Linked DNA regions of Homo sapiens: regions 1, 3, 4, 5, 6 and 7 are each reported to be linked to region 2. Evidence: microRNA targets listed by miRTarBase, many of them from high-throughput screens and not tested one by one. Region 2 holds a microRNA gene; each other region holds the end of a gene's coding sequence.
The links. The annotated mature microRNA hsa-miR-1306-5p reads CCACCUCCCCUGCAAACGUCCA and lies in region 2 at 1,979-2,000, shown strand. An mRNA with a match to its seed (bases 2 to 7 or 8) in the 3' UTR can be bound and repressed. Matches are read on the target gene's strand: a 7mer-m8 pairs with bases 2 to 8, a 7mer-A1 pairs with bases 2 to 7 and ends in A, and an 8mer does both.

Region 1 (4,078 bases), not on the chromosome of region 2:
GGAACACAAATACCTGTGCCCACACTGGAAACTCAGAGATGGTCTCCTTAAAGCCTCTTCCAGTTGATGCAAACCACAAGGCAGCCCAGGGAACAGTCCCAGGTGAAAATGCTACTAAATCTTTAAGGATTTCTTCTCTAAATCCTTCCACGTTCACTCAGCAAAGCTCAGAAAGAATTTTGGCAGTCATTTTTCAAATCCTCTGCCTGATCTGCATGTTACCATAGTCACATTCATTCGGAAAAACAGGTGTTTCTGTTAAAATTAGCTGTTCCAAACTGCCAAATATTTTAAATCCCCATGCCAGCTTTAAAAAAAAAAAAAAAAAAAAAAGTTAGGGCGCGGTGGCTCACGCCTGTAACCCCAGCACTTGGGAGGCCGAGGCGGGTGGATCACGAGGTCAGGAGATCAAGACCATCCTGGCTAACACGGTGAAACCCCGTCTCTACTAAAAATACAAAAAAAAAAAAAAAAAAATTAGCCAGGCGTGGTGGCGGGCACCTGCAGTCCCAGCTACTAGGGAGGCTGAGGCAGGAGAATGGCATGAACCCGGGAGGTGGAGCTTGCAGTGAGCCGAGATCCCACCCTGGGCGACAGAGTGAGACTCCCTCTCAAAAAAAAAAAAAAGTGTGTGTAAAATAACCAATCAGATGAGGATGGTGGGGGTGCGGAAGAAAGCAAATACACACACATAATTTTTGTGTTTCCTAACATCACCCATAAATGCTATGCTTAAAACAGGCAAAGAAAGATGGAGTTGTGCTTTTTTCTGGTTAAGTCTTATGTTTGAAAGACTGTTTTTGTTCCATTTACTGAGTTGACTATCATAAATAATGTCTTTTGTTCAAAGAACTTAGCAATCATGATTTCCTTTTCTCATGACCATTCAAAGGAAGAAGGTTCTCAACATTCCCTGGTCAAGATGATGCACATTAAGCCTGTGTAAGAAAACTTGCCCTCAGGAGTCAGAAGAACCCAAGGATTAATGTCTTAAATTAACCCTAGTTTAAAAATTAAAAAGCAAACAAAAAAAACAGGCCACTCTGATTTTATTCCTGGAACCAGTATCTCTGCTGACCTTATTAAACCCTATTATGAAATAGGTCTGAGACGCTGCTTTTTTTAAACATCAGGGGCTATTTAAAAAACAAGTTTAGCAACCTGGGACATTAGAGAAAAGTTAAAATGTCAAAGACCTGTGCCCAATCCCCTTGCCTAGCATTCCTCACTCTGGCTTCTTGAAATCTGCTAGAAAAAAAGTACAAGCAGAATTCACTTCAAGACACCTGCTGGAAGAAAAGCCCTGAACTTTATGTTATAAATGGGAGGTGGGGGGTGCAGGAGCAGTGAAAACGCTTAAGTTTAGAACTTTAATCAACTTCAGAGAACAGAGATTATGCATGTTACATGACCAAACGTAGAGCATAAAGAAACACCAAGAGCAGCTATCATTTAGGTAAGAGGTTTCAAAATTCACTTAGTGACTAGCTAGTTAACTTCATCCAAACAGATAGGGAAAGTGATTTTCTTTTTTTTAATTGGCTTGAGTTGTCCTGAAAATCGCTTCTGCAAGGAAAGAGTCCAGGAAAAAACTGGCAATTCTTTTTTTCTTAATCTAATACCAAATTTACAGATTTCTGGCCCTTATTTTACTTAGCGTTTGTTCCTTTCAGTTTACTCTTTGTGATCTGCATAGGATAAATGAAAATGAACCATATAATCAAACTCCATCATTACTTGTGTACATTCAATAAATAAAAATTTCTATATGCATGCAGGATTGTCACTGGCACATGAATTAGAATCCCACCTCCCTTTCATCCTGAACCCCATCCCAACATTAAGGGGCAGAGGAAAGGAATAAAGATGCTCAAGGTCATTTTCATCTTTTAAAGTCTTCAAAAACCCGAAGTTTACCAGGATTTAACAGAGAAAAACTGCTCCCATGGTCATTTTTTTAAAAATTTAAGTACCCTACCACTTTAAGACTTTTTCAAATTTCAAATTCAGGGTGGTGAAACAGTCCTACCCTTACCCAACACAGGTTAAAGACTTTTACACGTTGTATTTCATGTCATTGTAATAAAAACAGCGATTCAAACAAGTAAAATAGTCAATATGACTTTTTTCTCTCTCTCTTAATGTATTACAGTGAAAAATGCTTTCTTTTCAGATCTGTGGGAACTGCAAAGGTTTAAGCACAACAAATCCCAAGAAAAATGTAAATGGAACAAATCTAAACCACGTACGAGTTTTTACTCATGTGGCTCTCCCAGGCTTCAGGCACTGTAAATAGATTTGTTGTGCTTTTAGTGGGAAGATATTCAGAATTTAACTAGGTTCAACAAAACTATACACTCCACCACCACTCACACAAAAAGACTCCTAAAAATGTCTGCAGAAAAGACAAACTACCTTAATATTACTCCAAATTCCAATCAAAGATTCTTCCAACATACAATCAACCATGGCATTATCTTAGATCAAGGTCACAAAAACAAGCCCTTGGCCTACAATCATGTTGTGGCTCTAGAACGTTCTTAACAAGCTTTCCAGGATACTTCTTTCCTCTATTAAGCAGTCTAGGACCCTCTCTATATTTTTTCTGAAATCATGAGGATCTTGTCTGAATAGACCTGTGTACATAAAAGATGCTAACTATTCTCACTTGATGTACAGTACTTTTAGAGTTCCATCCAGAGACTCTGAGTTGGGAAGGCTGGCATACCACACAGGATTAGGATTTAATCTGAAAATGATAGGCAGAATACAAATCAGAATTCAAGCAGCCTGAGCCACTGTTCATGATGATGGAAAGGTAAGTGGAGACAAAGGGAGCTAAATCACTTTCCAGGAAAAATGAGACAAAACCGTCCCAAGCACTCTACATAACCCAATCCCATTTGTGTCACCTGCCTTTTAAAATAGAACGTTACACATAGTCCTCTCTTCAGTTCCAGGCTGCTCAAGGGAGTACTTCTTGAGCAGTACTTTTTCTTGAGGAAATAGTAGAAAGGGCTGGGAATTGGGGGCCCGCCTCACTACTATTGAAATAGCCTTCCCACAGACCCTTCCCATACATGACATGCAGCATGCAAAATTACAATTATTGAAAAATCAACAATAATTGCAAAAAGCCATCTGAGAAACATAACATTTTAATAGATGAAATAAATACTCCAGTACATGCAAGGTAAAAACTTGACGTTGGGGGAAAAAAAAATCACTCTATAGTGTAAATTAAAAAAACACACGCTCACAGTAGCTTCCCCCCATTTGCAAATCACATGGCAAATTCATACTCTTTCCACACCAAGTATACTCCTAATTCAACACGATTGCTTAAAAAAAAAAAAGACATACAAAAAAAGGTAGCTACATCCATGTCTAAGGAGTGAAAACTGAGGTAACCTTTCTTTTAATTAAAAACACAAAAAACAAAAATGAAATGAACCCATGACCTCCTTCCTGCCCAATAATGAAATTTAGTTGAGAAATTCCGGAAGACGGGCTGGGGTAGGGGGTGGGAGTGATAACACAACCAGCAGATGACATATCTTCCAGTCCCTACTGCATGGGGGCTGGTGGAGAGACACCTGGGCCCTCCAAGTGCGTGTGCAGGTTGCGTGCATGGCCCTGCCTTGTGGAAGATTCCTCTCGAGCATTTAACGTTGGGGAGGGTAGGGGGTTTCACCTATGATTTCTTTGGTATAAATGGAGAGGGGCAGAGAGTAAGTATCTTCCTTTAGTCTGGGGGTGGAAGAAGGGGTATGGGGGTGGGGTGCTAATTCACAGAATTGGAATTCACTGGCGGTAAAGTCCTGGGCGAAGACCTCTCCCTTAAAGCCTGAGATAGCAGGGTGCAGCCTTCAGACACGGCGCAGGCCGAGTTCCTCAGCCTCTCCCTGTGGTCCGACATCTTGGCGCCCCCGTCGGGGTGCTGCGCCAGATCCCTGAGGCACTGGGTCAGGAGCACGCAGGCCGACACCACGCTCATGGCGCCGCCCAGGATGGCGGTCTGCACCGCCTTGCCCTCGGCGCTCACAGCTGCCGCGCGACCCAGGAACTGCGGCTCGGT
Region 2 (4,000 bases):
GTCCATATAGTGCGTTCCTCGGAGTAGATGGCCAGTGGATAGTTGTTAAATGTATTGATTAAACCTAAACTAGTCTCTGGTTTTCATGTTGTGTCCCCTTCGAAGTACATCCACCATGCCTTGTCCCTTGTTAAATGTGTGATGTCTGCATCTCCTGTTCTTTCCGGGAATCTTGGGAGGATGTTAGGTCATGCAGTGCGGTTTGCATGTGTGCATCTTTACTGGTATGCACGCATGTGCATGCATGCGTGTTCCTGTGCACGTTGTGGGAGTGTGCATGTGCGTGTGTCTGCATGTGTTCCTTCTGCTCTGATGCAGGGTTTTCTGGCTGCCCCCTCAGACCCATCTTCCCTGCTTCATGTTGTCCCTTTCTTCATGCTTCCTCTGTAGTAAGGCTTCCTAGAGTTGCATCCTTAACCCTCATCTCTGGGTGGCCTTCCTCCTGTGGGTTTGGCGACTACCTCCTCAGTGCGTCCTGGCCTTCCGTATCTGGACCAGTCATGGCTCCAGAGTTGTGGCCTCGGCACCTTCAGAGCCTGCCTGGAGGTCCCCTCTGTTCTCCTCGCCAGGCTCCTGCCTGCATGCTGGAATTTGGGTGTCCTTCCTTGTCTTTAGTTCCCTCTTTTCTCTGCTATCCACCTCCGTTGGGTCAACAAGTGCGGTCAGTTCTGTGACACTGTTCTTGGCCCATTGCCAGGGCCTCTTTCACACCTTTGTCCTCTGGCCTGGAGGACTGTCCCCGTGCCTTGGATGCAGTTGCTTCTGCCTGGCACAGCTGTGGGTCTCCCCTCTCAAGTAGGAACCTACTTGTGGCATGAGAGTCGCTTCACCTTCAGTGGCTCCTTATTGTCCCCAGGGCGGAACGGGCTGCAGGTGGCACCCAGGCCTCTCTGTGCCTCGGCTCCAGCTGTCTCTTGTGGCTCCCCACCCCAAATCCTGGCAGGTCCCTTCCCCACAGCCACCCACCCCTCTCCTCCATCGGGAACAGAACTATGCTGCCACCTCTGGTGACCTCAGCACGCTGCATCACTGTCCCCGTCCACGTGCTACCCTGTGGGCCCAGGAGAGCCCTGGGGTCCCTGGGTAGCAGAGCGCCTGGCCATGCCTCTGAGGCCCCTAGTGCCGCAGAGTTGAGCTGAGGGTCTCGCGCTCGCCCTCTGACTGACCCAGCCCTTGCAGGTGAGTGGATTGCTGTGCTCTGGTGGCCTGAGGGAGGCCACGCGCCTTCTGTGTGTTCCAGAAAGGGTGCCTCCCACTGCATGCTTGCTTATCTGAGTTAGAAGAATGCTGTGGTGGAGTTTAGTGTAAATTTTTAAAATATTTTTTGAGCCTTATGATTATATAGTTTTTGTGTTTCTGAAGTAGGAATTAAAGTGGGCATTAACAAAATATTTAACTTTGGACTTAAGTTATAATTCAGGTTCTGAAGAATAAAAGTAAGGTTAGTTTGTTTTGATGCCTAAAAAGTCCTCTTAGGGAATATTATTTTGAAGCCCTTTACTATGCTGTTAATAGTGCTTGGCTTTTAACTTGGTACCAGGGAATTGGAAGGTTTCTGTCATTTTGTGACGATATTTTTAAATTTCTTTGCAGGTAGAAGAAGAAAGGTGCCACTCCGGCATGAAGACAGACTCGCTTAGTCGCCAGTCACTTAAGCTGAGTGCATTGTGATTTCCAATAATTGAGGCAGTGGTTCTAAAAGCTGTCTACATTAATGAAAAGAGCAATGTGGCCAGCTTGACTAAGCCGCCAGCGCACAGCGCGGCAGGACGCGCCCGGGTCTCAGCGGACTTGTGCATGTTAGCTGTGTAGATTTATGTGAGGGCTTGTAAAACTCTGGTCTTGTAAACTAGTCTTAAGCGCTTTTAATATGGAGACAGATGAGAGCCCCTCTCCGCTCCCGTGTGGGCCCGCAGGAGAAGCGGTGATGGAGAGCCGAGCTCGCCCCTTCCAAGCGCTGCCCCGTGAGCAGTCTCCACCACCTCCCCTGCAAACGTCCAGTGGTGCAGAGGTAATGGACGTTGGCTCTGGTGGTGATGGACAGTCCGAACTCCCTGCTGAGGACCCCTTCAACTTCTACGGAGCTTCTCTTCTCTCCAAAGGATCCTTCTCTAAGGGCCGCCTCCTCATAGACCCGAACTGTAGTGGCCACAGCCCGCGCACCGCCCGGCACGCACCTGCGGTCCGGAAGTTCTCCCCTGACCTTAAGTTGCTTAAGGATGTAAAGATTAGCGTGAGCTTTACCGAGAGCTGCAGGAGTAAGGACAGGAAGGTGCTGTACACAGGAGCAGAGCGCGACGTGCGGGCGGAGTGCGGTCTGCTCCTTAGCCCTGTCAGTGGGGACGTGCATGCTTGTCCCTTTGGCGGGAGTGTTGGTGACGGGGTAGGCATAGGGGGTGAGAGTGCTGATAAGAAGGATGAGGAGAATGAGCTGGATCAGGAAAAGAGAGTGGAGTATGCAGTGCTCGATGAGTTAGAAGATTTTACTGACAATTTGGAGCTAGATGAAGAAGGAGCAGGCGGGTTCACGGCTAAAGCAATCGTTCAGAGAGACAGAGTGGATGAAGAGGCCTTGAATTTCCCCTACGAGGTATGTTGGCAGCCCCTCCTCTAGAGGGCTCTTAGCAAAACCCAAAGAGAGATTTGGGAATTGCAGCATCTTTTGAAAGCAGGGAAATTAAAAAAAAAAAAAACAAAAACCAAAATCCCCTCTGAGGTGGAATAATGTTAATGTGGAGAAGAGAAAGATGTAAGGAGTCCAGATTTTTAAAGTTTCCTAATGAAAAGTTTGGCCCATGGGTAGGCCCTGCATCCCTGATCTAGCGCGTGGGGCAGCAGGTGCTGCTGAGTTACGCTCCTTGGCAGTGTGTGCCCCTGGACCAGGTGTGTTGGTGTCAGCTGGTAGCTTCATCCTGTTTGTTTTTCAGATGATCATGCACCCTAAGGGCACATCTAGGCCCCCTGAGAGCACCTCCTTTCTGTGTCTGTTCTCAGGAATGCTGTTGAGCTCTCCTGTTGCAGGAGCATGAGCGCCAGGGGCTCTGGTGTCTGAACAGCGTGTTTTGCAGGATGACTTTGACAACGATGTGGATGCTCTGCTGGAAGAAGGCCTTTGTGCCCCCAAAAAGAGGCGAACAGAGGAAAAATATGGCGGAGACAGCGACCATCCGTCCGATGGAGAGACAAGTGTGCAGCCGATGATGACCAAGATTAAAACAGTGCTCAAAAGTACGTGTGTGGGTCAGAAGCAGTGGGTGTTCCAGGGCAGTGGAGGGGTGGTTGCTTCCTTAGCAGAAATGCTTTGAGAGAGCTCTGGTGCCAGGTAGTGGGCTGGGTGGAGGCATGTTTGAGGACAGGACAGAAATATCTGAGGAGGGAAACACAGGATGGGAGGACGTCCTGATGCATGACCCAGATGCGGATCCTGGTGTGTGCTATGGAAACCACAGAGCAGCAGGCACTGTGCAGAGGAATGGGAGGGGACTTCTGAGGGGGTCAGGAGGGGATGTTGGTATATGCCAGGAGCCAGCATGACCATCAGCTGGAGGGTGTGGAGACCAAGGGCAAGGTGGGTACACAGTGAGATGGCAGGTGATAGTTGTGATCCAGGTTCTAGTCCTGGACCAAGTGTCACAGGAAGCCACCAGAAGCAAGTGGTGTTACCTGATTTTTGTTTAACAACATGGCTTCTGGGCCACAGCATGGTGTGTGCACTTCAGCTGGGCAGGGTGGAAGTGCCCTGGTCGACGTGGCACTTCCTCAACTTTGAGTTGAGGGTAGTGGGGAGAGCACTTGAGAGGCGCCCAGAGTTGCACTGTGAGGCTCTGTCATCGATGTGGTGCAGGTGTTGGGGGAGTCGGAGTTGGTGGCTTGGAGGCACCTATGAGGGTCCTGGTGGAGATGTGGGGCTCGGTAGAGGGACTGAAGAGATGCACGGGGACTCAGGCTCACAGGTGAGACCCCAGGCTGAGGGCTGGGGTGCACAAGGTGGCAGGGTGCG
Region 3 (4,078 bases), not on the chromosome of region 2:
GGGAAAGCCGCGGGAGTGGGAGGGAATGCGGGAGGTGATTCTTCCAAAGCCAAGTCTGCAGCTCGAGCCTCAGTTTCCCCATCTGGAATTCGCCTTCCCGCTGACATCTCCGTAGCGAAGCCTAAGAAATTGGAGGGCTCATCCTCTTCTTGCGGGGGTCAAGGGGACTGAAAGGACGTGCAGGAAATGAGATCCATCGCAGACTCAGCTCCCCTCCCTCCTTCCTGTCGGTGCTTTTCCACTCACTCGCCTGCTCTCCCATCTCCCCGCCCCCTCCGCCTGCCTCCTCGAAGCACTGTGGGATTCCGAGGTTGCTGCAGCCAGAGAAGCTGCAGAAAAACACGGAGCTGGGGGTGAAGGGGGACTTAAAAGGGGAACTACCCGGAAGGACCCAAGAACACAAAGACAGAGCCACTGCGGTTATCTGGCTGGTCAGCAAGGGTATGCGGCTTCCTCCGCGCTGCGGAGGCTCCCAGAGCCAGGTCACCCATTCTGCCAGCTCAAGTCTGTTGTCATGGGAACCAAACCTTCCAACTTAAGAATCTGGGGGCGACTTTCTAGCGTGGGAGGAAGGGTGGTGTGCACGGTTGCTGAGATGGAAGCAGGGTTTTGTTACTCAGAGCCAGGCTGCGGAGGGGCGGGGTGCCGGGCGCCTGGGTTCTATTCCAGGCACAGCAGCAGACTGGCAGAGCGCGTGAGCAGCTGTGGTTTGTCCCCTAATTGGTATGTGTGCCTATAAAGCTCTGAACCAGAAAGGCGTGGCCTCCGGGGGGACGGGAGGGAGGCGGCAGGCAACCCATCCCCACACCTCAGGCCATACTGAGGAGGCAGCTGCCCAGGCTCCAGGGCTATTTAAAAGGCTTTTATTTCCAGTTCCAGAGCCCGCCCGAATGGGTTTGTGGTCCTCTCCAGGCCTCTCCCTGTCTATCCTGGGCCTGCTCATTGCTGGTCTGGCTTTTTTGTGCAGGTCATAACGTGCTCAGACAAGTATGGCTCCAAGTGGCAAGTCATCTGGAGCATGACCTCAGGCTCCCAACCTCTGCTGGGCAGGCTCAGGTTTCCACCCCAGGGTAAACCCCTCTACTCTGGAATGTGGTCTGTGGCCACCAACAGAGCAGAGGGGATGAGAAAATGGGAGCCAGATGCTTCCCTCAGCAAGAGACACAGGTACTGCCAGGAAACCTTGCGTGACATCTGGGAACATGAAAGGTTCCAAGTGAGTTCCAAAAAAGGGCTCCAAACCAAGTAGCAGCAATGTGGAAGAGTCAGGGAGCTGAACCAGGCGCCCACTCCTTTACTGTGGCCAAACGGCCCTGAGGTGAGCTCTGGTGGGGCAGCAGCCACCATGTATTAATCATCTCTAGCCCTGTGCCCAAGTAAAGTGTCTGGCACCTTTAGCTTTTTCACAGTGATTTGTCAGGTCAACCAGGGATTTGAGGCAGGAAAGACTAGAGGAGCCTGGACTAGAGTGAAAAGAAAACAGCTCAGAAATTCACACAGGAAGCTGTAAGGCAGTACTGTTTCAATGCTTTATTAACAGTTGGAAACAAAACCAACAAACTGGAGGTGATGACATCCCAGAAGCCTATGAGGCAAGGGAAATAGGTTTGCATTTTGTCCCTCACACCTCTCTCTCTCTCTCTTTTTTTTTATTAAATGCATCTTAGCAAAAGTAGATTAAAAAAGAAAGGGTCAAAGCCCCAGATGTCAGCGAGCAGGGAGGAGGTGACCCAGGGGAGCAACAGACGCCCTGCATCAGAGTCCTCCCAGGAATAGTCCAAAGGAGCTGCTCTTGCCCCTTTATACACAAGCGCCAGCAACCAAAACCCTCCCTCCTGGCAATAAGGCCTCACTATAGTTGCCCTCATGCTTCCTAAGCTCTCTCTTGCTCTAATAACTCTAATTCTGGGCCAAGCCCAAGAGTGCCATTCTTTCTTCCTAGCTGGGGATGGAAAGCTGAGAGGGGCACAAGGAGGGCAAAAGTATCACCCTAAGCCAGAGAATTGCAGCTTCCTGTGGTTGGGGCCACCAAACAGTTCAGTGTGCCCACCCACTTCTCTTTTAGAAGAGAGCTGGGGTACAGTGTATGAAGGCACTCCTGGTGCCCAGTTCCCCAGAATGTCCAGTTAGCATCTGCACATTTGGCTTGATACATTTATACATTTATAAAAAACTCTGTGGTCTTAGAGTTCCTGCTACTCTTAGGCCTGGCCCAGCTCAACCAGAGAAGGGGTTCCTCCTGTGTCGGATTCCCTGGGAGAGAGGATCTGCCTTGGACTCAAGGGTCCAGAAGGTCCAGGGGCACATTCAGGATTGGGCCTGTGAGAAGAAATCCCAGAACTCTGTAACCTGCCACCAAAGCTTCTTACATTATGGAGGGGAAAGGGGGAAGGAACAGTTTTCTTTAAAAAAATTTTTTTTTTCATACAAAAATAGATCCATTTGCAAAACAATTTCTCAGCCAGGAGGCTCCACCTCCCATTTCCTTGTAGACAGAGGGTGAGGTGTTGGGATGGTCACAGTACAACCCATAGTCCAGATGAGATGCACCAAAGCTCAGGGAAGGCATGAGGAGGGAAGGTGGCTCAGTAGCCTGGGGTTGGTGCAGAGCGTCCAGAGAGGCAAGGGCATAAAGCGTGGCAGAAGCTGGGGGCAGGTCCCACACTGTCGCTATGCCCTGCCTGCCTGCCCACAGGCTCTGGCCTGGGCCACAGCACAGCAGGGAAACTGGTCCAGATCCTTTGCTTTGGAGGCCTTTCCCAGGAAGGTGGGGTAAAGGTGGGATTTGCTCCCTGCTTCCTTAGGAGCAGCTCCCAGTGCCACACCACTAATAATAAATAACCACAGCCAGGAGAGGGAAGAGCAGAGACAACAGCAATGAAAGGAGGGATCTAGCCCAAAGGTTTACAAGCCCCATGCTATTCTCAGGGCCAGAGAAACCACAAAAGAAAAGCACAAATCCAGCAAGACTGACCTAGGGGGGAAAGCCCATTAGAAAGTCAGGGCTGAGAAAAAGCAGGCTGGGCCTTGTCTGAGATGAGGCCCTCTGAGTAACAGAGAGGAGACAGGGTTAAGGCAGCAAACATGGACCCTGCTTTGGTAATACAACAGCCAGGGCTGGCTAAGTCGGGCTCAGGCCTCCCCTGCACTGCCCTTTCCTTCTGGCCTCCAGGCAGCTGAAGCTGTATGTGATGTTGAGAGAGCAGCAGGCCAGAGAGAAAGACAGGGTCAGGGTGGTGGGAGTGGCCACCCCAGAGGAATATCCCCTTGAGCCTTTAGGCACATGCTGCAGGGCAGGACAGTCTGCGGCTCCGCTGAGGAGCTGCCGCGGTCACAGGACCCACATTAGCTTGCACGGCCAACCAACTCCTTGGCTTCCTCAAGGATTGTGGGGAATGTCTCACTGTTCTTGGACACCTTGGCAGGAACAGCAGCCATGGCATCATCCTTGGTCAGCTCCGAAGCTAGCAGAGATGTGACTGCACACCCGGCCTTCCTGTTGGCTGCAAGAGAAGACGAGAGATTCTGTCTATGGAAGGCCTCATTTCTAATTTCTTTCAAACTCTACAGCAGATAATCAGCGTAAGCCATGCAGACATGACTACCTTGGCCACTTCACAGAGGCCCTTACTTTGAAGAAAGGGGCAGAGATCCAGCATGTGGAATATATTGTTGGGTGGCAAAGAATGTAAGAGAGTGTGGTGCAACAGGAAAGCAAGCCTTGCCCCCTTGCTTCCCTGTGTGAAAACAGCACAAAAGTTTGAACACAGACAGACAGAACTGGGCTGAAGTGTTAGCTATGTGACTTAAGGAGAGATGAAGTATTCAAAGTCTATTTTCTCGTAATAGGGATGTTGGAATTAAATAGACTAAAGTTTAGTACATAGTATTATTTTTGTTTTCTTGACAGGTCCCAGGAAACTCCTAGGCCAAAACACTTCTCAGTCAGCCCTGGGAGGGTTGTCCCTAGCAGAAGGCAACCTTCCGTAAGTGGCTGGAGAGACTCCCGCAAAGAGGAACAGCAGCCACGCACTGACACCGCACTCCCACGTGTTCCTCCAACAACAGATGCCCACAT
Region 4 (4,078 bases), not on the chromosome of region 2:
CAGGAATGAGCCATCACGCCTGATTTAAAGTATTTTAATGCGAGCTGTTAAGTATGTTAGCATCTGCCTGGGTTCTTATCGGTCAGTCATTACATAGACCCCAAATCATAAAGGTGTTCTAGTTTTATATCTATGGGGAAGGCTGGAAAATTACCACAAGGGGAGAGAGAGAAGGTGGTGTAAAAAGGCAGCCTAACTAACTATTTTTAAAAGCAGATCAGGAGATACAGGAGCTAGGTGAGATGCTGTGGACAGTGCATGAGGTTCAATTGTGAAAACCGATGTCCTCATTAATGACAGAGAGAACTCTGTCCCTCCATATACTTGGCTGGGCCATCATCAGTCCAGGGTCTCTTATACTTGGAGTTTTCCAGATGTTTGTTTCATGAAGCACACTTTACCAAAATTTAGGAAAAGAAGAGAAAGATCTCAACTTTAAGGTAATATACTTTTGGCTATAAATACAGGCAACTAAAAACAATGTATAAACTCTCATTCTGCTTAGGTCTGTAAATACATGCTAATAACTGTTCGTAACTTTAAAAGGCTGCCTTGAATTTTGTCTTACTGTTGCTGCAAAAGAGACTGTGAGGAGAGAAACACCTGACACTTTCAGAGACTGGGAGGGAGGGAAACAAAGTTGGGGGAGTGGGCAGCTGAGTCACAGGAACAGGGCAAGAGACTGAGCTGGGCAGCCTGGGAAGGTGCCACTCCCCTCTCAGTGTTCTTCATCTCCTCCCTTTCTTCTCCACCTGCTGGGAAGAACCACCTGAATGCCTACTCATTAGAGACTACTTTGCATCAAGCTGCAAATACCTCTGAGAAGTACTGCTGTCACTCAGTGATGGTTCTGGTTGAAATCTGATGTCAGTGTGGATGGCTGGTAACTCGAGTGCAGAGTATGTTAGGACTGAGTTATAGAGAAGACAATGGGAAGGTACCAAAACACTCTTAAAAAATTGTAGGTCAAGAGCTCTGTACACCTACTCATCCTTTTATTCTTGGGACCCATAATCAGGCTAGAACTAGAACAGTGTTTGGACACAGTACAGGGTAAACTTATGTTCAAGAATTTTGGATCCCATAATAGAGCATCGGGGAGAATGCTGATTTCCAAACAAACAACTAACATACTTTGGGATACAGTATTCACTTTTTTTTTTTTTTTTTTTTAGATGGAGTTTCACTCTTGTCACCCAGTCTGGAGTGCAATGGTGCAATCTTGGCTCACTGCAACGTCCGCCTCCTGGGTTCGAGCGATTCTCCTGTCTCGGCCTCCTAAGTAGCTGGGATTACAGGTGCATCCTACCACACCTGGCTAATTTTTGTATTTTTAGTAGAGACGAGGTTTCACCATGTTGTCCAGCCTGGTCTCAAACTCCTGACCGCAGGTTATCTGCCCACCTTGGCCTCCCAAAGTAAGTGCTGGGATTACAGGCGTGAGCCACCGTGCCCAGCTGGTATTCTCAAATTGAGACAGCTTCCTTTGAATTTTTCTACTTTATGAAAAGTTGCTATGTATAAATACTGTAATTCTAGCCTCTGCTTTACTGAAGCCTTTTCCCCCAGTAAACTGTGGAGTACTCACAGGTTCACAAAGAAGAACTGAACCTCAGGTAAGCTATAAAAAGAAACAAAGCAACTGTGGTGTTACTTCTGTTGGAAAATTTAAAAAAAGCAGTTATCCAACTTTCAATTCCATTTATAAAATGTAAAAATTCAAAAGTATACAACATAGTTCACTGATATCCCAACAATTCATTGCCTTTTAAGATCAAATAGCTGATTACCTGTTTCTAAACTTGAATTATTGTCTAGTGAGTAAAAACTGAAGGCAAACAGAGTGTTTTGTGGAACTGGGAAAAAAATGGATTCTGTGGTGATCTCTAGATGGTACACTGGATGATAAGGGTGTTTTTTTCAGATCACCTAAAGAAGTCAGAACACTGCCTTCCTCTTAACCTCTAAGGTAGTTCCATATTTCTCAAGGAGGGCAAAGTTTACAAATACCCCTTTAAATCCTTATTTCAATACTGTAGAATTTGTGTCTTATATTTAAAGGGTGACTTATTCATTATGAATGGGGCTGGGAGATTATAATGTATGCCTTAAATAACTCTGTAGAATGTGTGTAAGTAAGCTTGATTGAGGAGTTTTCAATCATTAGGATAATGTAAGAAATATAAAAATACTGTAAATAATAAGATAAAGCTTTCAAACGTATTTTCTAGTAATACTTAGAAATATCCACCTGAAATATTGGTCTGAATGCAAAGACATCAAACATAGGGTAACTTTACTTGGTAGATAGGAGAAATATTTTAAATCGACAAAATTTTCTAAATTTCAGTGTCTTTCTCCATTACTTTCATTTTGAGACTAGAGCTTGTGTAACTGACACCATAATTTTGCAAGATTGTTGTATTATATTTTAAGATTGAAAATGATTTCATCATAATCCATCCCCACCCCACACTCCCTGCTCCCTTCCCTGAGTCCCTTTCCTCCAAGCGTGTTGATATAAAATGAGTTGCGTCTTAATGTTTTGTTTTCTTAAAAACCAAATGCTATACCTTATGTTCAGACAATTGTGGGGCATGGAAATGGAAGTGCAACAAAGGACTAAGGCACCTTTTCTTCTTTCCTTTCCTTTCCTTGTTTGCCTTGGGGATGGAAACAAACACCACAAGAACAGCCAGGGTGGCTGGTCGGTCTTATGTCTCTTGACAATCTACGTACCAGCCACTTTCACTGGGTACTCTGTGTCACAGGCTGATAAGCCACAGACTTCAAACCCTGCTAGGAAAGAACTTTCTTCTTTTAGAAATACAGAAATAAAGGTACAACACAGTACCTTACATGGGGAAATTGGTGAATACCTGAAAATCTTAATGATTTAGGAATAATTTTGAAGTGTTCTGGATTATTTTACAACAGAAGTCACCTCTTTCTTGATTATGACACCCAAGAATATGTATTTATAGTTGTCTTCTTCCCAGCCAGACCCATAACCATAAATCTTCCTCCAATTAATAATCCCTGGTACTAGATGTCTGAGTGTTTATCAGCTTGACTTACCAGCAGATATTGCCTTAGGAATTGTATTTATTTTTTAAATGATGGATCAAATGGATCAATATAGTGTTTTCAAATGAGTAATCCTTGAAAATGACCCATTTGGGGACAACACTGTAAGCAAAAGCACTGGGAAATATACTTCAAGAGTTAGAAACATATCAAGGATTATAGATTCTTCTATAATAATGTGCAAAATCAGAATATCGTTTGTGTCATCTAGATACAAACCTTAGTATGGCCCCAATGCTGATCAGTGGTTGGAAAGGCTTTTTACATTAGGAAACACTGTTCTCTGAGACAGTAGTAGTAGTTTAAGTGGGGCTAGTGGTGGGGAAAATGCAACAGCTGTATTGGCAGGACTCTAACCCTCACTACTGTTATTTGGTGGGAGAGTAGAACAGGAGTCGGCTACACAATGATGTCATAGACACGGCCCACCCTGCCCAGCCACTCCCTCACAGCCTGGCGAACTCTGATGTCGGTCACGTGACAGGTCAGCTGACTGATGCACGGGAACACTGCGGGCTGGAGGGCCGTGAAGGTCTGGTCTGGGAGAATCTGAATCTGATTGAGAACTGTTAGCACCATGTTGGTCCATGCCTAAGAGAAAAGATTTAAGAAAATCAGTGGCTTTCCCCCCTGGTTTTATTTGAACACTTGAGAGTGGCCCTGCCAATGTGGAAATGGTTTTTTTCCAGGCTTTAGTTGCAATAAATTAGTTTTCACTCATTTAATATGCCTATAATAAATTGTAGGCGTATTAATTTATTATGCCTACATCATAACTTCACATACATAAAGATGGGCAGAGACTCGCCTTATTTTCAGCTTTCACAAACTACTAAACTCTTACTTATTCCTTAGATTTAAAAACAACAACAACAACAAACCTCCCTTGCCTTCTCACAGTGAGATCTCCACAGGCCGTTAATCTCAAACTCATTTTTTGATGCACCATAGAATTACACTCAAAGCCTCCCTGAAGAATGAGAATTTTTAT
Region 5 (4,078 bases), not on the chromosome of region 2:
GTACATTTAAAAATAGAACGAACGTTGTTTGCAATTCGGCTTGGTCGAGCTTTCTGCACCCTTACGGTGAATGGCTTCTCGTCCACACACACAGGCCAAGTCTCAGAAGGATGTGGGGAGCACTTTTTCTGGGTTGCCCTTTCTGGCTTATTGACAGGGTCATTCAAAAAGACAAATTCGCATCTAGCTAGTAAGGAAATGAAAACTAGATTATTTTTGTTATAGGATTTAAAATGTACAAACTCCACCAAAACAGGACTAATTCAGATTGATTCTGGGTTGCTACCCCATAGAAGGCCAGAAAATATTCTAACCTTCCCCCACATTATCTAGAGAATGCCACTGATTTAGTTCATTGTACAACTTATTAGAACAAGTACATTTTGAAAACCCACCACTGATAACCAACTTATTAGTTAAAAAATAACAAAACAAACAACAAAAACCTGAACTGAACACAGCACATGCTGACATTTCAAAAATGGGCTGCAATTTTTATTCTACTTAAATTTCCTGTGTATTGCTTGGATTTCAAAAAAACATGTTAACCCACGTGTTGATTATAAATATAAAATCTCGCCCCTCCATGCAACACCACACTAAGATCCACTACCCCCCAACTCAATGTATAAAATGCTTTTTTGGCAATTAATTATGAGTGACTCAAAATAAATAAAAATGGGAATTATGTTATGAAAAAAATTGTTTTTTTTTTTGAGACAGGGTCTGGCTGTTACCCAGGCTAGAGTACAGTGGCATGGTCTCAGCTCACTGCAACACCCATCTCCTGGGCTCTAGCCATCCTCCCACCTCAGCCTCCCAAGCAGCTGGGACTACAGGTGCACACCACTATGTGCCCCAGCTAGTATATATATATATATATATATTTTGTATTTTTAGTAGAGACGAGGTTTCGCCATGTTGCCCAGGCTGGTCTTGAACTCCTGGGCTCAAAGTGATCCGTCCGCCTCGACCCCCCAATGTGTTGGGATTGCAGGCGTGAGCCACCGCGCCCGGCCAAAATCTTAATCCTAGTGGAAAACTGACAGCCCCAAAAGGTTAATAAATGTACTCGAGGCTGACACTGTATAAGACGACGACAGATTCCATGATCTGTATGACTTTGGTCATTAAATCTGAACTCCTTAAACCTGCAATTGAAAAAGTAGTATAATCACGTCTCATTTCTCTTCAGCCAAGACTAATCTTAGATGTAAAAACTGAGAAAACTCAGGAAGTCCCCACAGCAAGAATTCAGAGTCATGACAATTTTGGCAAAATCATCTTCTAATGCCCTGTTAATTAAAAAAAAAAAAAAAATTCGCGCATCCCGAGACAGTGGTGCTCCCCACATAGCCCAGGTGGGCACCGCATCCACCCCATGCCTACACAGGAGGGGACTCTCTCCATCCTGAACTTCTTGCTTTGGAAAGTTATTGCTTAGTATAAAAAATGAGAGGAGTAGGGTGGAACTGGCAATGAAGGTCATTTGCTGCGCACTCTCTGGCAACGTCCGCCTGCATTTTGCACTAGGACTCAACTTCCTTCCGTGTACCCCAGGCGGCCCCTGCACGGGTCTGGAGAGCACCCCAGGTTGCGCTGGAGTCTGGAAACATATCAGCACCGGAAAATATGTTGGGTGAAGGGTGAGTATGAGGGGACTGCAGGCCCAAGGACCCCCGAAGGAACGGCTGCCTCCCCAGCACAGCACAGCCGCGCTGCACCAGCCACCGAGGACTTCCTTATGTCAGAGCAGAACTCAGGGAGGGAGGTGTGAGGTCGCCCATGACCACAGGGGCTCGTGACGATGTGACGAAGCTACACTGGGAGCACTCGGGCCCTTTCAAAGCCAGAAGAGAACCTGGGGCTTAATGCAGAACGGAGGGTCCGTGAGATGAGTCCCGGGCCATGCAGGACCACCCAAGGCCCCGACCCGAACTATGTGTCGGCTGCTGATGCTCTGCCGTCGGCCGTCGTCCCTTGTCCATCCCCCTTCACAGCTGCAGGATGTGGTGTTATCTCATCCCACATGGATAACCACAGACTGGCCAGGCCCAGCTGGACGTGACGTGGAGTGGCTCGGAGGAGAAGATTCGGCTGTGGAGGTTTTTTTAAAGCTCAAGTCCCCACCACCTGAAGTGTGCACACATCATCAAGTCGAACGGTCCCCCACGGCTGGTATGCTCTGCGGAGATGAGTCTGCCTGAGTTCCCCGGCTTCTTGAAGGAAGGACTGACAGGAACACGGAAGCTTCCCAGCAGCCTGGCCTCCGAAAACCAGGCAGAAGAGCTGCGCGGAGGGAAGCGGTGCGGTGCCCCGTGCAGGGTGCAGCTCTCTGGACCTGCCACGCCAGCACGTCCCCAGGGATGGGCCGGGTCCATCTGAGGTCTGCGGCCACAACCTGTTGGTTTTTACCAAAAGGGCTTTAAAAAATGGGATGTGGGGTGGGAGAATGACAAGGAGAGGCTGCAAGACCTCTCAGCTCCTCAGAGAGAAGCCTCATTTGCTGCGGCAAAGCCGCTTCATCAAGAAGAGACAAAAATGCATTCAAGTCCATCAACAAAACAGTGGTATTTTGGACTCAATGAAAATATTTCCTATATGAACATAAAACACTAACATTCAGAATCATTTATCATTTATGAAAGAGTACCATATGTACAATCCCAACAATCCTAGACACAGTAGAACACTCAAAATATTTAAGCTTCACAAGTACCATGCAGCGCAAACTATAAAACAGAAAAAAAATCAAACTAGTGGCTAGCATCGGCTTGACCTGCCTCATTCCCCTCGAATAACTGAAGATCCTGTACAACAATGGAGACTCTCGGAACATTTATCCACAGTGCAATTACAGAAAGCAGTTCGTGATTTCTCTAGAAATAATAAATATGGCTCACTGGTGACCATTCCCCTCACGTGTCCTCTGTGGTGCCCACACGTGCGCCGGGATGTGCAGGCGTGGACGCAGAGACGCCCCTGTGGAAAGCACACATGCGGTGCACACAGCTCCACACGCGCGCGCACATGGAGGCTGTGCCCCTGCCTCCCCCGACGGCCAGCGCATGAGCACTGCCTGGGAGGCCGCGGCCGCGGGTGCACGGGGCACTGAGGGACGCCGGCTCCTGGACACGGCCTCGCTCTGCACCTGGGCTCCCGAGGGCCCCGCCTTGAACGCAGCTAAGAGCCGTCTCCCTCTTCACCTCTGGATTCTTCCTCCCAATCTCATGTCAGCAAATGGCGAGTGGATGTCGCTGCTCGGGCTGAGGGCGCAGGGGCGCCGCTCCAGGGGAGCAGCCTCGGACCCGAGCGTGCGCGTTGGCAGCCACCTAGTCCTTTTCTCCGTCTTCGCTGCTTCCTGTTGAGGAGAGAGGAAGCGAGACGACAAAGCTGGGTTTTTAAAATGATCAGACAGGCATGGCGTGGATGGCATGTGCGCTGCACCACAGGAACGGAAGCGGGTGTTTTGAGCCCAGCACCGCCTGAGCCGCCCTTCCTGTCCTTTCCTTCGGAAGCAGCCCCTGCCTGACTCTCCCACATCTGCTAGGCTCAAATGCCCGCTGGGCGCTAAGGGTCAGGGTGCAGAAGAAGTCAGCTGGGATCCACACATCTGCCCCGACAGACTGGCAGATAGCAGGTGTTATCTAATCGGCACAAATGAAGCCTAGCGCCGAGGGAAATAAAGCCTCTTTGTATTCCATATTTATTATTTGATCTGTAAACTTCCAATCAAAAAATGAGCCTATTAACCTTTATCTTTCAATCTAGTGACGGGGAAAGAAGGCTCCCTATGTTCAGATACCTCGACTTCAAATGGCCCCTGCCCATTCACCCCACCCCGCCCTCGGGAGCCACACCAGGACCAAGACTCAGCAGCAAAACCAACATTCCAGGGGCAGCACCAGAGGGCATGTGGGCTGGTCCCAAGTCCAGGGGTCAAGTGCTCTTACGAGCCTGCTGAAGAGCAGGTTCTCTCTGGGAAAGGAGGAGACAGAGTGCGGAGGAGGGACTATGCAGCCACAGGAGAAAAAGAGGAGATGGCGCGCAGCCTGGGCGTTCCTGGGACCCAGAGCCC
Region 6 (4,078 bases), not on the chromosome of region 2:
TGTACTCTGAACACCATGAAAAGGGAACCTGAAAATCTAATGTGTAAACTTGGAGAAATGACATTAGAAAACGAAAGCAACAAAAGAGAACACTCTCCAAAATAATCTGAGATGCATGAAAGGCAAACATTCACTAGAGCTGGAATTTCCCTAAGTCTATGCAGGGATAAGTAGCATATTTGACCTTCACCATGATTATCAAGCACTTCTTTGGAACTGTGTTGGTGCTGCTGGCCTCTACCACTATCTTCTCTCTAGATTTGAAACTGATTATCTTCCAGCAAAGACAAGTGAATCAAGAAAGTTTAAAACTCTTGAATAAGTTGCAAACCTTGTCAATTCAGCAGTGTCTACCACACAGGAAAAACTTTCTGCTTCCTCAGAAGTCTTTGAGTCCTCAGCAGTACCAAAAAGGACACACTCTGGCCATTCTCCATGAGATGCTTCAGCAGATCTTCAGCCTCTTCAGGGCAAATATTTCTCTGGATGGTTGGGAGGAAAACCACACGGAGAAATTCCTCATTCAACTTCATCAACAGCTAGAATACCTAGAAGCACTCATGGGACTGGAAGCAGAGAAGCTAAGTGGTACTTTGGGTAGTGATAACCTTAGATTACAAGTTAAAATGTACTTCCGAAGGATCCATGATTACCTGGAAAACCAGGACTACAGCACCTGTGCCTGGGCCATTGTCCAAGTAGAAATCAGCCGATGTCTGTTCTTTGTGTTCAGTCTCACAGAAAAACTGAGCAAACAAGGAAGACCCTTGAACGACATGAAGCAAGAGCTTACTACAGAGTTTAGAAGCCCGAGGTAGGTGGAGGGACTAGAGGACTTCTCCAGACATGATTCTTCATAGAGTGGTAATACAATTTATAGTACAATCACATTGCTTTGATTTTGTGTATATATATATTTATCTGTGTTTTAAGATTGTGCATATTGACCACAATTGTTTTTATTTTGTAATGTGGCTTTATATATTCTATCCATTTTAAATTGTTTGTATGTCAAAATAAATTCATTAATATGGTTGATTCTTCAAATGGGTGTATTTTCATACAGGCTGGCTGGGTAGATACAATAAAATATGCCACTAATGTAAAAATACTTTCCTTAACATAGAACTCCATTGCAATGATTTGCTTATTTGCCAGAAATTGCTAGAGACAATGAGAAATATTGGGAATAATTTGCATTTTAAGATTTGAAAATATTATTACACAGTGAATATTTACATTACAGGAGACACAATAGAAATATGGTGAAAGGACATGAACAGTTTGCAGAGAAAAAAAACTACATTAAAAGAGGTTCAATCTCACTCATGATAATAGAAATACAAATTAAATAGCATGCATGCCATTTATAGTACAACCACTATGGAGGCAATTAGGTGATATCTATTACAGATGCATGTAGCCTTTCATCTATAAATTCTAGGCCTGGAAATGTGTCCTATAAAAATACTTGCCCACAGCTGGGCGTGGTGGCTCAGGCCTGTAATCCTAGCACTTTGGGAGGCTGAGGAGGGTGGATCACAAGGTCAGGAGTTCGAGACCAGCCTGGCCAATATGGTGAAACCCTGTCTCTACTAAAAATACAAAAATTAGCCGGGCATGGTGGCGGGCACCTGTAGTCCCAGCTACTCGGAAGGCTGAGGCAAGAGAATCACCTGAACCTGGGAGGTGGAGGTTGCAGTGAGCCGAGATCATGCCACTGCACTCCAGCCTGGGCAACAGAGTGAGACTCTATCTCAAAACAAAACAAAACAACAACAACCACAACAACAAAAACTTGCCCACGTGTGAAATAACTTACAAACAATATTATTCTCTGCAGCACTATTAGTAATACCAAAAGTCAAGAAACCATCTCGATTTTCCTAATTAGAGACAGTTGAGGCATATTCATATAAAGGAACACTATTCAGCTGGAGAAACAAATGAGACGGTATTTCTTTTTAAAAAGTTGAAAATAGGCAAGATACAGAGCAGTGTACATAAAATGCTACATTTGGGGTGAAAATGTTAAATAAAACTTACGTTTGTCCTTACTGTGTATAAATAAAGAATAAGAAATAAATTACAATGATTACCTGTATTTAGGAGAAGAAGGAAGACTGAAGAAGGAGATTAGGGTGGGAGAGATTTTATAGCTCCTCTAAAAATTTTTATATTAAATTGTGTGAATATTACATATTAAGATAATAATTTAAAATGTATCTAACGAGTCACAGTTATCAGAAATATGCATGAGGGAGTCTGGCTGGTGAAGGTCAAAAGGAACAGGAGACTGAATTAGCCTGCCCCTGGTTGGGATGTCTGCTTGGAGGAGGGCTGGAGAGAAGCACACCCGTGCCAAGGGAGAGGGTTCCTGCTCCTGGGAGATGCCAGTGATGGAGGGATTCCAGCTCTTCTAGCCAGGAACTCTCAGAAGTCACCACGGAACAACGTGGGGGCAGAGAAACTAAAGTTGAGGCTTGGTGGCTATCCCACTTTCGTCCACTGTAAGGGAGCAGAGCCACAGCCCAAAACTCTGATGCTAGTTCTACTACCATGTGTCATGTTCTACGTCAGATGCATTGCATAATTGGAGGTAAAAGTTAGTAGTAAATGTAAAAACTTAGGAACGAAGCATACTCCAGTTCAGTTTAATTAATGCAAATGAGTAATGGCTGCTACTTTAGACTTGGTTTGAAAGGGAAGAGTAGGAACCGAATAGGATCCTGAAAGTGAGACAGTCACCTGCAATAGTGAAGAAGGGTAAGGAAGCAGAGGCTGTCAATCAGAAGCAAGTCTTTGCTGACTTCACATTGCAGCCAGGGGTTGATCTGTTTACCTTCAAATTCACACAAAGGTAGTGAAGTGGAGGAAGGAGAAATACCACAAGGAACTGCAAATATAAGTTACTTTTCTTCTCATGGTCTAGAAAATTTTTTGTTGTTCTTTAAACCAGGAAGTTTTTGGAACCAAATCCTTCATTTAACACATTATCCAATTTTCAAATTGACCTTACCAAGTGCCTTCTGTAATTATTTTTTTCTCAAGTGAGAACAAGACTGTAAAGGTGAAATAACATGCTCAAAGTAATGTAGCAAGCCACAGAGCTTGCAGATACCAGAGCAAAGATCTTATCCCAAGTCAGCCTGACTCAAAAGCCTGCACTGTGTTGTTGACAACTCAAACCTGAATAGCATTGTGAAATATCACTGCAAAATAATAATAACAATAATAATAATTTTCTCCTAGCTTTCTTTATTCAAGTTTACAATGGTCTCTGAAGTCTTGAATTAAAGAAAAGATATTTTCCTTTCTCTTGACATTGCTTCCTTAAGAACTGAGAACAGAATGGAGGAACTGTCAAATGGAAACGTTTAGAAAATAATACTCATATTTAGAAGTTTAAACTAATACTTTATATACTAATGTTTTCCCAAACATTTAGGTTTATTAAGTTGATATCCTGTTGTATAACCACCTCAATGCCTAGCACAAAATAAAAAATTGTTACTTCTAAATATGTGTGCCCTTTTAAAACTCCAAAACCAGAGTTCTAAACTTGGGAATATTGGGAAGGAGAGACGTATTAAAAGATTGGACTCCTGGCTTAGTAGCACATGGAAAGGCTTGGAGTATGGGTAGGTTCATTTGTATTTGCAGGCTGAGTTATATTTTTGTTACATCTATATGTATTGAGCTAAACAAATCATTAAATCCAAAAGCAGGTTACAAAATAATAACAGCATCATCATATTTTCTACAAATAAAACATTCATGAAAAGTATATGAAAAGAAATGCATGAAAATGTTCATAGTACTACTGTCTTTGGGATAGAATTTACATTCACTTAAACTTTTTGGATTAAATATTTCTCCCATGAATAAGGATTCCTTTTAGAACCAGGAAAAAAAAATTATTATATTTTTGAAATTTAAAAAAAGAACAGGCTGGGTGCAGTAGCTCATGCCTGTAATCCCAGCACTTCGGGAGGCCAAGGCAGGCAGATTGCTTGAGCCCAGGAGTGTGAGATCAGCCTAAGCAACATGGTGAGATCCCATCTCTACTTTAAAAATT
Region 7 (4,078 bases), not on the chromosome of region 2:
TAGCAAATCCAAAATTTTTGCTGTTAACAGTATATATGGCAAAAGGAATATAGACTGCTTGGTGGAATAATTGTTTATTAAACGGCTGATTTTGATTTTGTTAGCAATATTGTCATGTCAAAATAATTCATGACTTAAAATTTTCATGGGATGATATGTCAAGTTTTTGCCAGCTGGACCACAAAGTCACAAGTATATGTTTTGTTTTGTTTTTTTCAAATAGCAACAATTTTTTTAAGATGCTAAACTTTTCTGACCGAATTGTGATTTTTGAAAGCATAAACTTACTTTGTCATCAAAATAATATCATTGCAAAGGATATAACATTAACTTATCAAATGTCTACTAAAAAGCAAGCAGAGCACTTTACAGGACAGGGAGTTTTGGGCAACAAAATAGAAAATGTGCTTGTCAGTATGGTGAGTGTACTTTTACGCACTATCCTGATATTGACAATTCTGTAGAAATTTCCAAGGCAGAAAAAGACACTAATTGGGAATTATGATACAGATTACTAAGGAAAAAAACCACTTCATTATAATCCACATCAAACCTGTGTATGTATTTACTATAGTGTGTTCTAGTCAATTGACATAGCCTAAAAGGAAATGCTGGTGTACTTAAAATATCTTAGACAGGTACTGTATATTCTACATAGGAGATTGTCAAATTATATAGCTATATTGTAATATAATAAATGGATATTTCACTCTCAAAAAATTAAACTAGCCACATTTTTCAATAGAGTGCAAAATTGAAAACCCTACTAAAAATGTTCAGAATAATCAAATCTAGAGACAGAAAGTAGATTAGTGGTTGCCTAGGGCTATGGTGTTTGGGAGGTTTTCTGTGTTGAACAGCATCTCCCCAAATTCATGTCTATCCAGAAGCTCAGAATGTGTCCTCGTTTGGAAATGGGGTCTTTACAGGTGTAATTAAAATAAGGTCATACTGGATTGCGGGCCCTATGTTGTCCTTTTTTTGTTTGTATTTTGCTTTGAGAAGGTGTCTTGCTCTGTCACCCAGGCTGGAATGAAGTGGCGCAATCTCAGCTCACTGCAACCTCTGCCTCCCAGGTTCAAGCAATTCTCCTACCTCAGCCTCCTGAGTAGCTGGGACTACAGGTGCACACCACCATACCTGGCTAATTTTTGTATTTTTAGTAGAGACGGGGTTTTGGCATGTTGTCCAGGCTGGTCTCAAACTCCTGACCTCAGGTAATCCACCCGCCTCGGCCTCCCAAAGTGCTGGGATTAAGGGCGTGAGACACAGCGCCCAGCTTTTTTTTTTTTTTTTTTAATGAGACAGGGTCTCAGTCTGTCACCCAGGCTGGAGTGCAGTGGCACAATCATAGCTCACTACATCCTTGAACTCCTGGGCTCAAGTGATCCTCCCACCTCAGCCTTCTGAGTAGCTAGAACTGCAGGTATATACCACACCTGCTAACTTTTTATTTTTTTGTAGAGACAGGGTCTTGAACTCCTAGCCTCAAGTGATCCTACTGCCTCCACCTCCCAAAGTGTTGAAATTACCGGCCTGAGCCACTGTGTCTGGCTCCTATGTTGTCCTTATAAGAACACCATGTGAAGATACAGAGACACACAGGGAAAAAGCCCATGCGAAGACAGAGACAGAGACTGAAGTGCTGCAGCTACAAGCCAAAGAATGCTGAGGATTGCTGGCAACCACCAGAAGCTAGGGGAGAGGCATGTGTGGTTTCTGCTGCAGACCCTCCAGAAGGAACTAACCCTGCTGACAACTTGATTTAGGAGTGCTGGCTTCCTGAATTGTGAGAGAATAAATTTCTGTTCTTTAAAGCCACCAAGTTTGCAGTAGTTTGTTATGGTAGCCCTAGGAAATACAGGGGCGTTGGGGGAAATAGGGAACCATTGCTAATCAGTACAAGGTTTCTTTTTGGGGTGATGAAAATGTTCTAAAATTGTGGTGATGGTTGCGTAACTCTGTGGATATATTAAAAACCACTGAATAATACATTTTTTTTTTTTTTTTTTTTTTTTTAGTCTTGCTCTGTTGCCCAGGCTGGGGTGCAGTGGCTTGATCTCAGCTCACTGCAACCTCTGCCTGTCAGGTTCAAGCAATCCTCCTGCCTCAGTCTCCTGAATAGCTGGGATTACAAGTGCACACCACCAGGCCTGGCTAATTTTTGTATTTTTAGTAGAGACGGGGTCTCATCATGTTGGCCAGGGTGGTCTTGAACTGCTGACCTCAAATGATCTACCCACCTTGGCCTCCCAAAGTGCTGGGATTACAGGCGTGAGCCACTGTGCCTGGCCTGAATAGTATACTTTAAATGGTGAATTGTATGGTATGTGAATTATATCTCAATAAAGCTGTACATTAAAAAACCCTACACAAATAGAAATATACCTATCATTATGTTTTTCCTAATTCCTTTTTGATTTAAACATTTTTAGGGTTTAAGACTATTATAACCTCTATATAAAGAAAACTGAAAATTAAGAGACACTGGTTCACAAATTCTAAAAACAACCATTACCTAAAATACTTGAAGAACAAACTGAGTGGCCTATTTTAAGTTAAAAAATATTTAATATTATCAGATAAAAACATTGATTGTGACAGCTTTACATGTTTCATTCCATACACAGTGAAAAAGGCAAAGTATTACTAGGAAGGAAATGAGTAGTTGGGTTTGTAAAAGATTTATTGATCACATAAAAGCAATGAATAGGAGATGACATATATCTAACTCATGATTACAAAACTTTTAGAGACAACTAGGTTAAATATTTCATGTTTTGGCTAAGGGAAAAGAATTCATGATCTCGTTAAAGAAGTTCAAAGTCAACACTGATATTGTACAACTACCAGTGCTTTTCTAATGATCTAGAAATTTGCTATAAATAGCTTTACTTTTTGCTAGTTAATCACTTACTATGATTGGGTTTTATTTAACAGTGAGGACTAAAGAGGCAGAATCCTTTTTTAACCACTGGATAAAACAGAGACATAAATTAATGATGGGTGCTAAGCTTTACATTTTATGTTAAAAAGATGGAATATATTTAAGTGGATTGAATATATTTCATGAGGAGTTGGACATATTAAACCCCCAAATCTGTTTAGGAAGTTTTGTGAGAAAGTGTGTATATGCCTTGACTCACTCTGGCTTACTTTTAAAATGGAATACATTTGGCACTAAATAAAATAAATAGACAAGCAAACTGTGAGACTAAGCTGCTCCATCTGAGTTGCCCATCTTGACTTACAATTCATACTATTTCTTAGTTCTTGACTGAGCACAAACAGACCTAACCGTATAGCACTTCTGTGATGCATGAAAATAGAATCTAGAGCTAAGATACTGCGCTTCACTGATGAGCCAATCTTCTATTCTGCCAAAATCATAGTTACAAATGTGAAATTCATTCAAGAAATTCACATTTTTAACAAATGCTTATACTTTTTCAAGTTTTCTTGCTAGATATGTTCTTGGTTTTGTGGCCAGCTAAAATATGATCTTTGAATTAAGGAAATCCATATAAAAGAAACATCTATTTTATAGGAACCTCATTTCACTTGAAACTTTCTTTACCAAAACACCAAACCAAAACTTTGTCACCAAACTCCTGGAACAAAGCACTGGTGGCTATATTTTAGAGTCTCTGATGAGTCTGAAGTCCACTCATTTTTCATGTTTCAAGGGTCTCTTCATTTGCTCCACAAGTATCGACAACACAAATTAAACAACTTGTGACTGGAAAAGCACGAACTTTGGAGTTGGCAACCCATTTGTCTGTTTCGGTATTATATTCGAGAATGTGTCCTAATCGACCAACACCCTGAAAACCAGCCAAGACATAAACTATAGAGCCAACTGCTGCACATTTCACTGTTACACCCTTCCATGGCATTGGTGAGACCATCTTCCATTCGTTCAACTTAATATCGTAATATTCCACATTGTCCAGACCACCTTCAAAAGAATAAAACATGAACAACATGAAAAACTATATCAACAATTCTAAGGTTTCTTAAAGTAATAACTTTTTGTATTTTTCCAATATTTTATTGTGAAAAATGTCAAACACACAGA

Region 1: miRTarBase lists TLNRD1 as a target of hsa-miR-1306-5p. Seed matches in the 3' UTR shown: 7mer-m8 at 1,808-1,814.
Region 3: miRTarBase lists DIAPH1 as a target of hsa-miR-1306-5p. Seed matches in the 3' UTR shown: 7mer-m8 at 2,473-2,479.
Region 4: the mRNA of ARFGEF3 is a reported target of hsa-miR-1306-5p. Seed matches in the 3' UTR shown: 7mer-A1 at 2,941-2,947.
Region 5: miRTarBase lists LMTK2 as a target of hsa-miR-1306-5p. Seed matches in the 3' UTR shown: 7mer-A1 at 3,203-3,209.
Region 6: the mRNA of IFNE is a reported target of hsa-miR-1306-5p. The part of its 3' UTR that is shown has no 7-base or 8-base seed match.
Region 7: the mRNA of KLHL7 is a reported target of hsa-miR-1306-5p. Seed matches in the 3' UTR shown: 7mer-m8 at 1,509-1,515.

Annotation. Positions count from the first base shown.
Region 1 is chr15:81,003,067-81,007,144 of GRCh38, reverse strand. It overlaps TLNRD1 (talin rod domain containing 1), which reads right to left. Exons shown (of 1, transcript NM_022566.3): 1 at 1,357-4,078. The coding sequence ends at 3,785. Among named protein-coding and RNA genes, the nearest start is that of TLNRD1, 4.2 kb to the right of the region's middle. RefSeq lists an enhancer at 3,547-4,078.
Region 2 is chr22:20,084,094-20,088,093 of GRCh38, forward strand. It overlaps MIR1306 (microRNA 1306), which reads left to right and starts at 1,965; the gene lies at 1,965-2,049. DGCR8 (DGCR8 microprocessor complex subunit) reads left to right here. Exons shown (of 14, transcript NM_022720.7): 2 at 1,594-2,590; 3 at 3,069-3,228. The coding sequence starts at 1,871. MIR3618 (microRNA 3618) reads left to right here and starts at 1,653; the gene lies at 1,653-1,740.
Region 3 is chr5:141,513,506-141,517,583 of GRCh38, forward strand. DIAPH1 (diaphanous related formin 1) reads right to left here. Exons shown (of 28, transcript NM_005219.5): 28 at 1,516-3,503. The coding sequence ends at 3,346. It overlaps LOC124901091 (a long non-coding RNA gene), which reads left to right and starts at 3,503. Exons shown (of 2, transcript XR_007058971.1): 1 at 3,503-4,078. RefSeq lists enhancers at 29-654, 200-319, 655-1,280, 1,060-1,309, 1,281-1,906 and 2 more.
Region 4 is chr6:138,335,895-138,339,972 of GRCh38, reverse strand. ARFGEF3 (ARFGEF family member 3) reads right to left here. Exons shown (of 34, transcript NM_020340.5): 34 at 1-3,678. The coding sequence ends at 3,487. Among named protein-coding and RNA genes, the nearest start is that of SMIM28, 40 kb to the left of the region's middle.
Region 5 is chr7:98,204,747-98,208,824 of GRCh38, reverse strand. LMTK2 (lemur tyrosine kinase 2) reads right to left here. Exons shown (of 14, transcript NM_014916.4): 14 at 1-3,361. The coding sequence ends at 3,333. Among named protein-coding and RNA genes, the nearest start is that of BHLHA15, 4.7 kb to the left of the region's middle.
Region 6 is chr9:21,477,808-21,481,885 of GRCh38, reverse strand. It overlaps IFNE (interferon epsilon), which reads left to right. Exons shown (of 1, transcript NM_176891.5): 1 at 1-1,047. The coding sequence starts at 192. The coding sequence ends at 818. The region is part of intron 1 of MIR31HG (MIR31 host gene); the gene reads left to right. Among named protein-coding and RNA genes, the nearest start is that of IFNE, 2.5 kb to the left of the region's middle.
Region 7 is chr7:23,173,895-23,177,972 of GRCh38, reverse strand. KLHL7 (kelch like family member 7) reads right to left here. Exons shown (of 11, transcript NM_001031710.3): 11 at 59-3,958. The coding sequence ends at 3,675. Among named protein-coding and RNA genes, the nearest start is that of NUP42, 6.1 kb to the left of the region's middle.